4 linked regions of the Homo sapiens genome follow. The protein of the gene in region 1 purifies or fractionates together with the protein of each later gene. This does not show direct contact. Each region holds a gene or a part of one and is shown in the gene's direction. Other genes may lie near its edges.

Region 1 (4,271 bases):
AGAACTGGAGTCCATTCATGACCAGGAAGAAGTACTTTCTCCCTGGGGATAACAGCATTTAAAATGTCTATTAGCAGTGATGTTTGAACTAGTCTTTTTGAGAAGTGTGAAGAGAACAGGAAAAGTCTGTCCCTAAATAGCAGGGCAGTGCTCGCTTCGACAGCACATGTATTAACATTGGAACGATACAGAGAAGATTAGCATGGGCCCTGCGCAAAGACCACATGCAAATTTGTGACATGTTCCATATATTTTTTAAATACTTTGGGCGGGCGGGGCGCAGTGGCTCACACCTGTAATTCCAATGCTTTGGGAGGCTGAAGTGGGCAGATCACGAGGTCAGGAGTTGGAGACTAGCCTAGCCAACACAGTGAAACCCTGTCTCTACTAAAAATACAAAAAAAAAATTAGATGGGTGTGGTGGCAGGTACCTGTAGTCCCAGCTACTCAGGAGGCTGAGGCAGGAGAATCGCTTGAAACTGGGAGGTAGAGGTTGCAATGAGCCAAGATCACGCCACTGCACTCCAGCCTGGGTGTCAGAGCGAGACTCCATCTAAAAAAAAAAAAAAAAAATTATAGCGGAGCATGGTGGCTCATGTCTGTAATCCCACACTTTGGGAGGCTAAGGCGGGTGGACCATTTGAGGTCGGGAGTTTGAGACCAACTTGGCCAACATGGTGAAACCCGTCTCTACTAAAAATACAAAAATTAGCCGGACATTGTGGCCAGCGCCTGTAGTCCCAGCTACTGGGGAGGCTGAGGCAGGAGAATCGGTTGAACCCCGGGAGGTGGAGGTTGCAATGAGCTGAGATCGCGCCACTGAACTCCAGCCTCCATGACAGAGAGAGACTCTGTCTCAAAAAAAATAAAAAGTATTAAAGAAAATAATAAATAAATAAACGGGGGAGGGGGATACCACCCTCTGTCCTGCCCCAACTCTCTACCTTCCTCTCCTCCCTCACCTTCTACCCTGACCCCGAGGCCCACCGCACCTAGCTTTCTTTTGTTGATCTACCTGTATATTGCCTTTCCCCCGACCCCGACGCCCCATAGAATATGAGACCCTCCAGGTCAGGGTCTGGATCTCAGCCCTCTTCGACCACAGTCTCTCAAACCCCAGCCAATTGTCAAATCCAGGAAGCTACATGAAGAATCAAGAACAAGTGCACAGGGCTGTGTGACCCCACGCTTAGTCTCAGGGAGAGGGAAGTTGGACCTCTCCCAAGAATCCGTGGGCCGACCCATTGTTAAGTTACAGGCTAGCATGAATCCATCCACTGGAGCTCTGAAGACGGGGGGCACATTGGGCATGTAACTAGAATCCTGAACAGGAGGAGTCCACTGAGAACCCTAGGGGAATGACCTGGGCCAGCATCTCTCCCTACCCTGTGCCCCCCACTCACTGGGGCCCAGTGGTTGGGTCCTTTGTGAGGCAGGCTGAGGGGACAGTGGATCCTGAGGGTCTGTGGTCACAGTAGGTAGGAAGTCTCAGAGGAAGGAGCCCCTCCCTGGGAGCCAGACCCCCACACCATGGCGAGCGTGGTGGTGAAGACGATCTGGCAGTCCAAAGAGATCCATGAGGCCGGGGACACCCCCACGGGGGTGGAGAGCTGCTCCCAGCTAGTCCCAGAGGCTCCCCGGAGGGTGACCAGCCGGGCCAAGGGGATCCCGAAGAAAAAGAAGGCCGTGTCGTTCCACGGGTGGGTTTGTTGCACACTGTCAGGGATGGTTCTAATGCCCAGCACTACCTCCAACAGAGCAGGAGTCCGACTGTGGGTGCTAGAGGAAGGGGAGGGGGAAAAGCCAGCAGGTCGGGGGCAGGAAAGAGGGCAGCAGTGAAGAGACATCAAGTCACAGGGAGGTAGAGAGGAAGAAGGTAATGGGGATGGATGGAGGGAGGAAGAAGGTAATGGGGATGGATGGAGAGAGGAAAAAGCCAGTGGGGAGGGAAGAAGGAGAAGGGAGGCTAGTGAATGAAGAAGAAAGTAGGTGGCAGAGAAGGGAGGAGAAAGTAGGCAGCGGGGAAGGAGAAGAAGAAAGTAGACAGTGGTGGTCGGGCACGGTGGCTCACGCCTGTAATCCCAGCACTTTGGGAGGCCGAGGCAGGTGGATCATGAGGTCAGGAGTTCAAAACCAGCTTGGCCAACATGGTGAAAAGCCATCTCTACTAAAAATACTAAAATTAGCTGGGCGTGATGGCACATGCCTATAACCCCAGCTACTCAGGAGGCTGAGGCAGGAGAATTGCTTGAACTGGGACCCGCAGTCGGAGGTTGCAGTGAGCTGAGATCGCGCCACTGCACTCCAGCCTGGGCAACAGAGTGAGACTCTGTCTCAAAAAAAAAAAAAAAAGAAAGAAAGAAAAAAGAAAGAAAGTAGGCAGCACAGGGAAGGAGAATAAAGTAGGCAGCGGGGACAGAGAAGGGAGAAACTTATATACAGTGAGGGTGGAGTCACAGGGGGTGAGGTATGGAGAAAGGAAGGCAGGAGGGCCCAGACACCCTGGGGCTGCTTCTCCACTTTTCTGCCTGTTTCTTCTCTGCAGGGTGGAGCCCCAGATGTCCCATCAGCCCATGCACTGGTGCCTGAACCTCAAACGGTCCTCGGCCTGCACCAACGTGTCACTGCTCAACCTGGCCGCCATGGAGCCCACTGACTCCACGGGGACAGACTCCACAGTGGAAGACCTCAGCGGCCAACTCACACTGGCTGGGCCCCCTGCCTCCCCTACCCTACCCTGGGATCCGGATGACGCAGACATCACGGAAATCCTGGTGAGGGCCCTCCACACCACCCGCTGGGGAGGACCGAGGTCCTCCACAAGGTGGTAGCAAATACTTAGGACGGGGGTGGGGTGTTTTTGACTTGGAGTTAGAATGTTCTGGTCATTCGAGACCCAGAGGAACTAACTGGGAACTGCCTCCTCCTTCTCTGACAGCCAGCCATGAATCTGGGAGTTGGTCTTTTTTTTTTCTTCCTTTAGAGACAGTCTCACTGTGTTGCCCAAGATGGTCTCAAACTCCTGGGCTCAAGTGATCCTCCCACCTCGGCCTCCCACAGTGCTGGGATTACAGGCGAGAGCCCCCGTGCCTGGCCTGGGTGGTCTTCAGTTCACACAGTCACTCCCAAATGTCCCCAGTGAGGCTGGGCTCAGGAAACAGGCCAGATCCCTGTGCTTGGGGAGCTCCCAGTCTGGTGGGGGCAAAAGACACAGACTAGGGTGAGAAATTCCCTAACGGAGGAGATCCCAGAGAAAGGCCCCTCAAGCCAGGCTGGGGGGTACCAGGGAAAGCTTCCTGGAGGAGGATGTCTTGCAACTGGACCTTAGTGAGTGAGTAGGAGTTCTCTGAGGGGAGTCAGCTAAGAATCTGGGGCAAAACTGAGAGATGAGCAAGATTTAGGGGGACTTAGGGAATTTCTGGCAAAAGTATAGAGGGTTACAAATGGGTCCTTTAACTCACTGCACCTCTGATCCTCACCCCCCACCTGGCTTCCCCTGGGCCAGGCCTAAAACAGGCTCTACCAGATACTGAGAACCACATTAACAATAGCCATGATCTTAATGATGCTGATAAGATTCACTAGCACTTTCTATGTTCAGGGAGCCCTGGTTTCCTCATCTGTAAAACGGAGATGCATACATTCGTTCCTTTATTTTTAAATTTTATTTATTTATTTATTTATTGAGACAGAGTTTCGCTCTTGTTGCCCAGGCTGGAGTGCAATGGCGTGATCTTGGCTCACAGCAACCTCTGCTTCCCGGCCGGGTTCAAGCCATTCTCCTGCCTCAGCCTCCCGAGTAGCTGGGACTACAGGCATGTGCCACCACACCCAGCTAATTTTGTATTTTTAGTAGAAACAGGGTTTCTCCATGTTGGTCAGGCTGGTCTCGAACTCCGGACCTCAGGTGATCTGCCCACCTCGGCCTCCCAAAGTGCTGAGATTACAGGCGTGAGCCACCACGCCCAGCTTTTGTTTATTTATTTTTAAGGCAGGGTCTTGCTCTGTCTCCCAGGCTGGAGTGCAGTGGCACAATCACAACTCACTGCAGCCTCGAACTCCTGGGTTCAAAGGATCCTCCCATCTCAGCCTTCTGAGTAGCTGGGACCACAGGCACACACCTGGCTGATTAAAAAAAAATTTTTTGTAGGCCAGGCGCAGTGACCTATAATCTCAGCACTTTGGGAGGCCGAGGCGGGTGGATCATGAGGTCAGGAGTTCGAGACCAGTCTGGCCAATATGGTGAAACCCCGTCTCTACTAAAAATACAA
Region 2 (3,500 bases), on another chromosome or scaffold:
ATAAGCAAAGGAATTATGGAGCCACCAGAAGCTGAAAGAGGGAAGGCAGCATTCTCCCTTAGTGCCTCCAGAGGAAATGTGGCCCTGCCTTGATTCAGACTTCCAGAACTGTGAGAGAATTAATTTAGATTGTTTTACGCCATCAAATGTGACAATTTGTTACAGCAGCCCTAGGAAACTATTAATAATATATACTTCATGTTGTTTTGGTGCTATTGAAAAGATAATGGCCAAGAATTTTCAAAAAATAATGAAAGGCATCAAACCATAGTTCCAAGAAGCTCAGAGAAACAGCAAACAAGCTGGAGAAAAACAAAACAAAACAAAATCCTAGATGAGTTATATTCAAACTTCTGAAAACCAAGGATTAAGAAAGAAATCTTGAAGGTAGCCAGAGAAAAAAAGACATATATATGTGGATCAAATGTAAGAATTATGAAGAATTCTCGTGAAACTATACAAACTGAAAGAGTAACATCTTTAAAGTTTGAAAGAAAAACTGCCAACCCAAAGTTCTGTACTTAGCAAAAATATTTTAGCAATGATGGGGAAATAAGACCTTTTTTTCCCCTCCAGAAAAACCAAAGCTGACAATTTTTTACCAGCAAATTTGTATTATAAGAAATATCTAATTTCTCTCTCTTCTCCTTCTAGGATTCCAATTGTCCATGTGTTAGAGACAGTATTGTCTTGTAGCTTATGGAAGCTCTGTTCTGTTTTATCCCTCTGTGTTTCAGTTTGAGGAATTGATCTATCTTTAAGATCACTAATTTATTTTCCCATTGAGCCCATTATAGCCATACTTCTCTGTTACTGGGTTTCTTATTTCTGTTGTTTCCATTTGACTCTTTCTTATAATTTCTGCCTTTCTGCTGAAATTCTCCATTTGATCATGTGTGTTATTCAGTAGAGCCTTTACCATATTAATCATAGTTATTTTAAATTTTGTATCTCATAGTTTCAACATCTAGGTCATCTGAGTCTGCTTCTACTGACTGCTTTGTCTCTTGACAGTGGGGTTTTTTTTTCTCCCTGCCTTTTTGTGTCTCATAATGTTTTATTAAATGCCAGGCATCATGCTTAGGACAGTAAAGACTGAGGTAAATAGTCTTATCAGGAGTTGAGCTTAGTTTAGTGTTACCTAACGTACCTAGGATGAGGTCTGGTTGATGGAGGATTTTCTCAGTCATTTTCCTCACTCTCACCTTTCAGCCAGCCCTGTGGGCATGCCCCTCAGAGGGGCATGCTTTTTTCCATGTTCTTGGCCCTCCTCCCTAGATAGGCTGCTGTTGCTTATTGCTTGGTGCTTGATATTTTTTTTTTTTTTTTTTTTGCTGAGGGTTGGGGTGGGCCCTGTTGTCTTGACCCAGCTTCAGTCTTAAGCAGACTCTGTCTCCCTGGGTCTCAAAAGTGAGACATTCTTAGCGGTCCTGCTCCTTCCTCATTCAAAGGAGACCTTGATAATCTCAGCTCAGGATAGTTTCCTGCCTCTCCCTCAAGGGAAGAGGTGTTTTTATATTTGCTTTTCCCTAGTAGTTTCAGGATGCTCTTCTACAGGGGAGAGGTCCTGGCAGGGCTTCATACCTTTCCTTACTCACTCTCCTCTCCTAGGCCTGCACCTCCAAGAACGGTTTTCTTCCATCTACTGTTCTGCCCCCATTTTTTTTTGTCATGAAAGCCCAGTGGAGGTCTGTGGAGGAGAACCTGTGCATGGGTGCAAGCTCTACTTGTGTCTGTGGCACCTGGGGGTTCTGCACTCTTACCCTAGTCTGCGCTTGGTCTCCAGCAGTTTGTTAAAACTGTAACTTACCCACTCGTATGGTATTTGGCGTCTCTTCTCCTCATGCTTTGCCATAGGTGACCCACAGCTGATGCTCACTTTCTATTTTCCTTGGAAGTGTCTGTCTTTCCTTAGATTTCAGGCTACTGGTTGCTCTGTGACTTCAGCTCTCTGATTTAAGAGAAGTTATGATTCTTTTAGATTGTCAGTCTTTTTCTTGTTAGGAAGGAATTAACACTTTCCCCAGCTTTATATATCCTAGGCAGCAGCTCCTTATCCATACTTGTATCTTGATGGAAGAGGGAGATCACGGTCAATTCAGAGACCTCTCAAGAAGTCAACTCCAGATGGGTTGATTTCTTGTCACAAGGAAGATCTACAAGCTGTTTCTTTTGTTTTTAATGAAATGTTATGGTTTGGTTCCTCATGTGTCTGGGTAGCTGAGTATCAGCCACAGACATTTAGGCAATTCCTACTGTGTGTGAAGTGATGAGCTCCTGGTGGTGTATGAAAAGCAGGCAGCAGAGGAAACAGGAACTGAGGTGGGCAACACATTAACCAACTGTGAGAGGCCAGAGTCCCACCCCAGGGTGGCATGAGAGGAGACACCTGCAGACCCCAAGTGATATTTCCCAAAGTTAGAGCCATCTCTTGAGAGTCACCTTTTTTTGTTTTGGTATTAAGATGTTTATATTTGGCAAAAGTGAAATGTTGTTGAATTGGTGTAGGCCTATACGAGTATATGTGTGGATTAATCTTTGTTGTTATTTTAGTGAGCATTACTTTTTCTTTTGAGACGGAGTCTTGCTCTGTTGCCCAGGCTGGAGTGCAGTGGTGTGATCTCAGCTCATTGCAACCTCCACCTCCTGGGTTCAAGTGATTCTCCTGCCTCAGCCTCCCGAGTAGCTGGGATTACAGGTGCCTACCACCATGCCTGGCTGATTTTTGTATTTTTAGTAGAGATAGGGTTTCACCATATTGGCCAGGCTTGTCTTGAACTCCTGTCCTCAAGTGATCCACCTGCCTTGGCCTCCCAAAGTGGTTGGGTTACAGGTGTAAGTCACCGTGTCTGGCCTCTTTGTGTTATTTTATTCATGTTATACTTAACTGAGAACCACCAGGCAAAACCCCTAGGACTCTTTGATGTTGAACAGACAAAATGCTGATGTGACTTTTGCATTTAAATGCTGCTTGGGTTATTCTGCCACTGTCATTACTCATGGCTCTGGTACGACTGTCTCTTCCCACTCTTGTGTGTCATTTTCTTATCTCTGCTTTCTTGCTTATTTGCCCAGCTCTCAGGGAAATGCCACAGCTCCAGAGTGCTGGCATGCAGGTGAGTGGCTACAGAGCTGTGAGGGGTGGGGCTGCTGGCCCTTTGCTGCAGTGCAGACATTGGGGAGGATTCATTACACAGGAATTTTACCTCGGTGGGCCCTGCTCTTTGAGGTGTTGAGTGTTTGTGGAGGGCCTGCTCTGAGTTCAGCTCTGTGCTGGGCAATCATTCCAGGGCAGCTGGGTTGGGGAAGTGACGCAAAAAGCATTAGACCTAGGATTCAGAGGCCTCCATGGGGACGTTGGAGAGGAACTGTGCACATGGAAGCCCAGCTGCAGTCAATGTCACCTGCCAGAGGCTGTCTCATGTCCGGGAAGAGCCTGCACTTTGGGTTCAGATCCCAATTCTGTTATTTGCTGGGTAACTTAGAACAAGTTACTTAAC
Region 3 (3,500 bases), on another chromosome or scaffold:
TTTATGTAATGACCAGTGTGCCACTGATGGAAAATATTCCTAACATCAAGATTCAAAAAAGTCTTTTTCCTTATATTTTATTAATTAAATCAATGTAAATGAATAAATTTGTTTCCTGTTTGTACCATAACTTTCTTATGAGTTTAGCTTTTCTTTTTGAGAAATAATGCTTCTTCATTAGTCACTAAAAGCTGTGGCTCTCTCTGGTTCATTAACATATATTAAATTGCTTTGTATCATCAGAAATGTCTTGAACCCTCTTACCTACTGTGCACCTCATCTTGAACTTCACAGTATTATTTATTTATTTGTATTTTACTTTTATGGGGTCTTGAGAGAAAAGCCAAGTACATGTCCTAAATCATTAAAAACTATATAGTTTTTTATGTTGCAATCATTTTTGTCTTACCTTTTTCTTTCCTAATTAAAGAGCTATACTTTTTTACTATTTTCAAAACTGTCTGTAGCATCTGGTTAGTAATTTTTGTTTGCTCTTTTTTTAAAAAATATTTTTAATTCCAGTTACTACTAGTTTATAACTAATAGCTCAAGAGCTTATCATAAGAGTTAAAATATGGGTAGATAAAATTGTACTTTTTAAAATGACTGATTATGTTGAGTGGATTCGAGTTGTCTTTTGAATTTAGCTTAATGTGATTTAAAGGGTTCAGTTGGCCTGGTTCAGAAGAAGGAAATAGAGAGTCGAGAAAAGGAGAGTAGATTTGATAAGAAAATTAAAAAGTTAATGTGATTTACTCATTTCAAAAGTGCTCAAGGCCCCAGAGACTTGGTCTGAGCACCTTAGCTAAAGAAAAGCATATCTAAATGACACGTATCTGAAATTTGAGCCAAAGGTTGATATGAGTTTTATGTCAGTAAATTTTTATTTGTCATGTCATTTCAGCTTCTAAAAATTTTCCAATACACTAACTTTGAGAAAAATAGAAATTACATCTTATCAACTCAAGATCGCCTTGTAGGGGGATTTGCCAAGTGGCCAGACAGTCATCCAGGTAATTATTTTCTTTGTGAATCAGAACAACCTTTATTTCCTGAATAGATCTTCAAGCATCTTTATCAGAAAAGGCATATGATAGAAAATATATCCAGTTGCAAAGTTACATTAAATAATATTTTTTAAAAGGTATATTGTGTAAGCTTAGGATAAATTTAGGGTATTAGAGAGTATAAATGAAAGAGTTTATTATCAAGATGCATGGGAATAGTGTGCATTTTTTCCCAAATATTTTACTTAGTAATGTTTTATTTCATTTGCAGCAATAATGTAGATGGTCTGAATGGGTCCTTTCCAAAGAAGAGAATTATTTAGGCCATCCAAAGCCGTTAGGATTATTAGTCATGACTTGAACTAAGTATAATAAATTACTCCCAATCCTGAAGGGAATCAGTTCTTACTCTTTTCAGAAGTCATTAAATAGGCCGGGCACAGTGGCTCATGCCTGTAACCCCAACACTTTGGGAGGTCAAGGCAGGTGGATCACTTGAGGTCAGGAGTTCAAGACCAGCCTGGCCAACGTGTTGAAACCCCGACTCTACTAAAAATACAAAAATCAGCCAGGTGTGGTGATGCGTGCCTGTAGTCCCAGCTATGCGGGAGTCTGAGGCAGGAGAGTCACTTAAACCCAGGAAGCAGAGGTTCCAGTGAGCCGAGATTGCACCACTGCCCTCCAGCCTGTGTGACAGAGCGAGACTCTTTGTCTCAAAAAAAAAAGTCATTAAATAAAATATTTCAAATCCTGAATATATGTGTTTCTCACTTCCCATACTCTTGTTCTCCAAATTTCAACAGATTCAGACAATATAAATGGCATGGCACTCAAGGCCCTTCCAAAATTTGGCTCCTCTCCCACCTCTAGCATCATTCTGCAGCCTACACCTCACCCGACATATGTTTTCACCTCCAGCAAAATGAGTCTATATACAGCTTCCCTATAAAAATCCATTTAAGTGTGTTTTGAAATAATTTCAAACACTGACACTTTTGATAAGCAAGTAGTTAAAGAATTAGTTACAAATATGAAACTAGACACAAGGAATGATTGTTTTTGCCAGTATTGCAATAGAGTCGTGGTTTTTATTATCAGCCTGGAAAGTGCCTCATCAACTCATCTTCCATCACAGAACTGCTGTGGTTGGAATGTGTGATTGAATCAGAATATAAATAAGGAGCTCATGAAATCAATTTTTGTATTTGAAATGAGCAGGAATATTTCCTTACACCCCTACTTGCCTATATTTTCATATAAAACATGCTTCCTAGGCCAGGAGTTTTGGCTCACGCCTGTAATCCCAACAGTTTGGGAGGCTGAGGTGGGCGGATCACTTGAGGCAAGGAGTTTGAGACTAGCCTGGCCACATGGTGAAACATTGCCTCTACTAAAAATACAATAATTAGCCAGGCGTGGTGGTGGGTGCCTGTAATCCCAACTACTTGGGAGGCTGGGGCAGAAGAATTGCCTGAACCTGGGAGGCAGAGGTTGCAGTGAGCCAAGGTCACACCACTGCACTCCAGCCTGGGCAACAGAGCAAGAGTACATCTCAAAAAATAAAATAAAATAAATGGCCGGGTGCAGTGGCTCACGCCTGTAATCCCAGCTTTGGGAGGCTGATGCTGGTGAATCACTTGAAGTCAGGAGTTGAAGACCAGCCTGGTCAATATGGCGAGACCCCGTCTCTACCAAAAATACAAAAATAGCCAGGCATGGTGGTGCACACCTGTAGTCCCAGCTACTCAGGAGGCTGAGGCAGGAGAATTGCTTGAACCCAGGAGGTGGAGGTTGCAGTGAGCCAAGATCTCACCATTGCACTCCAGCCTGGGCGACAGAGCGAGACTCTGTCTCAATCAATCAATCAGTAGTAAAACATGTCTTCTTAGAGAAAGTGTACATTGCTTTCAAAGTCGTAAGCCAAAGTGTGTCTTCAGAAGTTAATTTCTCAAGCAAAATAATATCTTGAAATTTTTGATATCTCTAGTGCCTCAAAACTGAGAATTATTTTGGTCTTCATTCCATTTTTTAAACCAGTGCAGGGTACTGTTTTAACAAATAATGGGAGTAGGGAAATGACAGTCTCTTAGGAAACATTTCTTGTATAAACATACTTGAAATACATTCAGTGTTTCCAATAGCTTTTTTAAAAGAAAGTTCTTGAGGCTTTTTCCGGAGAGTTCAGTTGCTAACTTTAACATTTGTGTAAATATTTGGATGTACTACTTACTTTTTACAGATACATTACAATGTTTTCAGAGTATGCAATAGAAAGCATAGAAGGGCTTTGCTAAATTGAATTTATGTGTAAAGATCTGGTCCCAGAATCTTTAATCATTTTAACAAGATTCTTTAAAATTAAGCTTATTCTTCATTCTAGTGAATTTAGTGGCAAATTTGATACAAAGGGATTTTATATACATTTATGAAAGAAACTTCAAAAGAATAACCTTTTATTGTGGAGTAAATATATATTTCAACATCTAAAGTGCT
Region 4 (3,500 bases), on another chromosome or scaffold:
TTAGATTACTTTTAGTAGATTTATTAGAGCCGCACAGTTTAGAGTCAGTAGTCAATTAAAGTCCCTACTTAAACTTCAGACTAAGATTTTTTTTTATTTAATATTTTATTTTTTCTTTTTGCTTTCATGCAGACAGACATCTTGCAAGACTTTAAGATTCTTGGGCCATTTCTGTCAGGTTGTTCTGTGTTCTGTGCCTGCTTCCTCCCCATAGTAATTTCAAAATAGCTATCCTCACCTCTGTAAGGTTTCCGAAATCAAACTTGGGCTTCTGGCTAGCCTTTTCTAGGTCTTGATTTTTCAGTGCTTTCCAGAGGCAATTGTTTGGAACCTCTTGGCACAGTTTCTGTTTCTTCTTCCATGTACAGGCATAAAAGGTCTTTTGGTTGTTTTCTGGTAAAACTATCATAAAACAGTTCAAGCAAATGACTATTGGTAGTTTTGTCATTAACATGGGTGCCTTCTAGTCATTTTGTTTCCTGGCAAAACAGACCAAACAGAGGGAGCAGACAGTTTGTACATCTGTATGAGTGTTGATGTGCTTTTTATTTTAAGCCAGGGAACACATTTTATGTTATTTATGACATCCTTTCCATGAATTTGTCAGGTGATTTTTGAGCTGAACATTCTCAGTAATAGCTTTAGTTTACAAAATACAACCTAGTCTTTCTGCAGATTTTCTAGGCCCACTTCAAATGCATTGACTATCAGATGGCATCTTGGTTCCTTACGTCCTTTCTGTGACTGAATGTCCATAATTCCACATCATACTGATCTTTCTTAGAAAAGGCAACAGTTACTATCTTCTTTATTCCTTTTTTAATGCTTGCGAGGTAGTTCTTGTTGATCACAGCGATGCTATTCTCTCATTCTTCATGTCATATTTAGCAATTTTTTTCTAGTTTGTCATTTGATAATCTTGATTGGTGTATTTTGATGTACAGAAATTTAAAATTTATGTAGTTAAATCTTTCTTTAATTTCTATTGCTTTTGTATTTATAGCTCTTGCCTAGATAGTCTTAACTGTAGTATAGACTTTAACAGTGTTTTCTTTCTTTTCTTTTTTTTTTTTCAGTTGCAACTACTGGCCCTTCAGTATATTATAGTCAGTCACCAGCATATAATTCCCAGTATCTTCTCAGACCAGCAGCTAATGTTACTCCCACAAAGGTAACAAAGGAATAATTTATACATTTATAATTATTTTCTTTTTAAATTGTTTAGGGTTCCTTCAAATAAATTCAAGAGAGCAGTTCACTATTAAAACTTTTATGTCCCTTAAAATGTAGATATTTTAAATTTATCTCCAAATACAGAAATTATCCTTCTCAGTCACCTTATTTTTGTGTTAATAAGTGTGAATATTTAGAATATTTTAAAAATGGGAGTGGTGGTGGTGGATCCTTCATCGTTCTGTTTTAACAGAAATAGAACTGTAATGCCCTTGCTGACCCACTATGTGGTAAGTACTTTCAGGCCTGATACAGCTATATATATAACAATTGATTGAAGACTCAATATTACAGTGGTAGTTGAATGTGACAGCTTTGAGGACAGAGTGTTGGGGTGCATTTAGACCCTTGCTCTTCTGCTTATTTTGACCACAGGCAAGTTTCTTAACCTCTCAGTGCATCAGTTGCCTTATATGTAAAATGAGGATAATAATAATACCTTAATTCATAGGGTTTTTGAGGATATTAAAATGAGATAATAATGTAAAGTGCTTAGAACAGTGCCCAGCTGGCACATTAATGAATGCTCAATAAATGTTATCATCATCATCATCATCATTATTGTTAACATCATTTGATAAATTGTTTAGGAATGAAGAAGGTATTTATTTCATGACTATTTTGGGCATGTGGATCAAGAAAATTCACCTTCATTTATGTTTCAGGGTTCTTCTAATACAGAATTTAAGTCAACCAAAGAAGGATTTTCCATCCCTGTGTCTGCTGATGGATTTAAATTTGGCATTTCGGAACCAGGAAATCAAGAAAAGAAAAGGGAAAAGCCTCTTGAAAATGATACTGGCTTACAGGCTCAGGATATTAGGGGCCGGAAGAAGGGCCGTGGTGTGATTTTTGGCCAAACAAGTAGCACTTTTACATTTGCAGATGTTGCAAAATCAACTTCAGGAGAAGGATTTCAGTTTGGCAAAAAAGACCTCAATTTCAAGGGATTTTCAGGTGCTGGAGAAAAATTATTCTCATCACGATACGGTAAAATGGCCAATAAAGCAAACACTTCCGGTGACTTTGAGAAAGATGATGATGCCTATAAGACTGAGGACAGCGATGACATCCATTTTGAACCAGTAGTTCAAATGCCTGAAAAAGTAGAACTTGTAACAGGAGAAGAAGGTGAAAAAGTTCTGTATTCACAGGGGGTAAAACTATTTAGATTTGATGCTGAGGTAAGGCAGTGGAAAGAAAGGGGCTTGGGGAACTTAAAAATTCTCAAAAACGAGGTCAATGGCAAACTAAGAATGCTGATGCGAAGAGAACAAGTACTAAAAGTGTGTGCTAATCATTGGATAACGACTACAATGAACCTGAAGCCCCTCTCTGGATCAGATAGAGCATGGATGTGGTCAGCCAGTGATTTCTCTGATGGTGATGCCAAACTAGAGCGGTTGGCAGCAAAATTTAAAACACCAGAGCTGGCTGAAGAATTCAAGCAGAAATTTGAGGAATGCCAGCGGCTTCTGTTAGACATACCACTTCAAACTCCCCATAAACTTGTAGATACTGGCAGAGCTGCCAAGTTAATACAGAGAGCTGAAGAAATGAAGAGTGGACTGAAAGATTTCAAAACATTTTTGACAAATGATCAAACAAAAGTCACTGAGGAAGAAAATAAGGGTTCAGGTACAGGTGTGGCCGGTGCCTCAGACACAACAATAAAACCCAATGCTGAAAACACTGGGCCCACATTAGAATGGGATAACTATGACTTAAGGGAAGATGCTTTGGATGATAGTGTCAGTAGTAGCTCAGTACATGCTTCTCCATTGGCAAGTAGCCCTGTGAGAAAAAATCTTTTCCGCTTTGATGAGTCAACAACAGGATCTAACTTCAGTTTTAAATCTGCTTTGAGTCTATCTAAGTCTCCTGCCAAGTTGAATCAGAGTGGGACTTCAGTTGGCACTGATGAAGAATCTGTTGTTACTCAAGAAGAAGAGAGAGATGGACAGTACTTTGAACCTGTTGTTCCTTTACCTGATCTAGTTGAAGTATCCAGTGGTGAGGAAAATGAACAAGTTGTTTTTAGTCACAGGGCAGAAATCTACAGATATGATAAAGATGTTGGTCAATGGAAAGAAAGGGGCATTGGTGATATAAAGATTTTACAGAATTATGATAATAAGCAAGTTCGTATAGTGATGAGAAGGGACCAAGTATTAAAACTTTGTGCCAATCACAGAATAACTCCAGACATGAGTTTGCAAAATATGAAAGGGACAGAAAGAGTATGGGTGTGGACTGCATGTGATTTT

The links. The genes of interacting proteins can lie anywhere in the genome.
Region 2: the proteins of TSKS (region 1) and POC1A purify together in Homo sapiens (affinity purification with mass spectrometry; 2 studies listed by BioGRID and IntAct, with this or other methods). This does not show direct contact.
Region 3: the proteins of TSKS (region 1) and PGGT1B purify together in Homo sapiens (affinity purification with mass spectrometry; 2 studies listed by BioGRID and IntAct, with this or other methods). This does not show direct contact.
Region 4: the proteins of TSKS (region 1) and RGPD8 purify together in Homo sapiens (affinity purification with mass spectrometry; 2 studies listed by BioGRID and IntAct, with this or other methods). This does not show direct contact.

Annotation. Positions count from the first base shown.
Region 1 is NC_000019.10:49,760,507-49,764,777, reverse strand, and holds the start of TSKS (testis-specific serine kinase substrate), read left to right. Parts: upstream 1-1,471; 5' UTR 1,472-1,530; coding exon 1,531-1,700; intron 1,701-2,545; coding exon 2,546-2,774; intron 2,775-4,271. UniProt on the Homo sapiens protein: May play a role in testicular physiology, most probably in the process of spermatogenesis or spermatid development.
Region 2 is NC_000003.12:52,098,924-52,102,423, reverse strand, and holds part of POC1A (POC1 centriolar protein homolog A), read left to right. Parts: intron 1-3,500.
Region 3 is NC_000005.10:115,214,378-115,217,877, reverse strand, and holds part of PGGT1B (geranylgeranyl transferase type-1 subunit beta), read left to right. Parts: intron 1-904; coding exon 905-1,013; intron 1,014-3,500. UniProt on the Homo sapiens protein: Catalyzes the transfer of a geranyl-geranyl moiety from geranyl-geranyl pyrophosphate to a cysteine at the fourth position from the C-terminus of proteins having the C-terminal sequence Cys-aliphatic-aliphatic-X.
Region 4 is NC_000002.12:112,388,646-112,392,145, reverse strand, and holds part of RGPD8 (RANBP2-like and GRIP domain-containing protein 8), read left to right. Parts: intron 1-1,076; coding exon 1,077-1,171; intron 1,172-1,898; coding exon 1,899-3,500.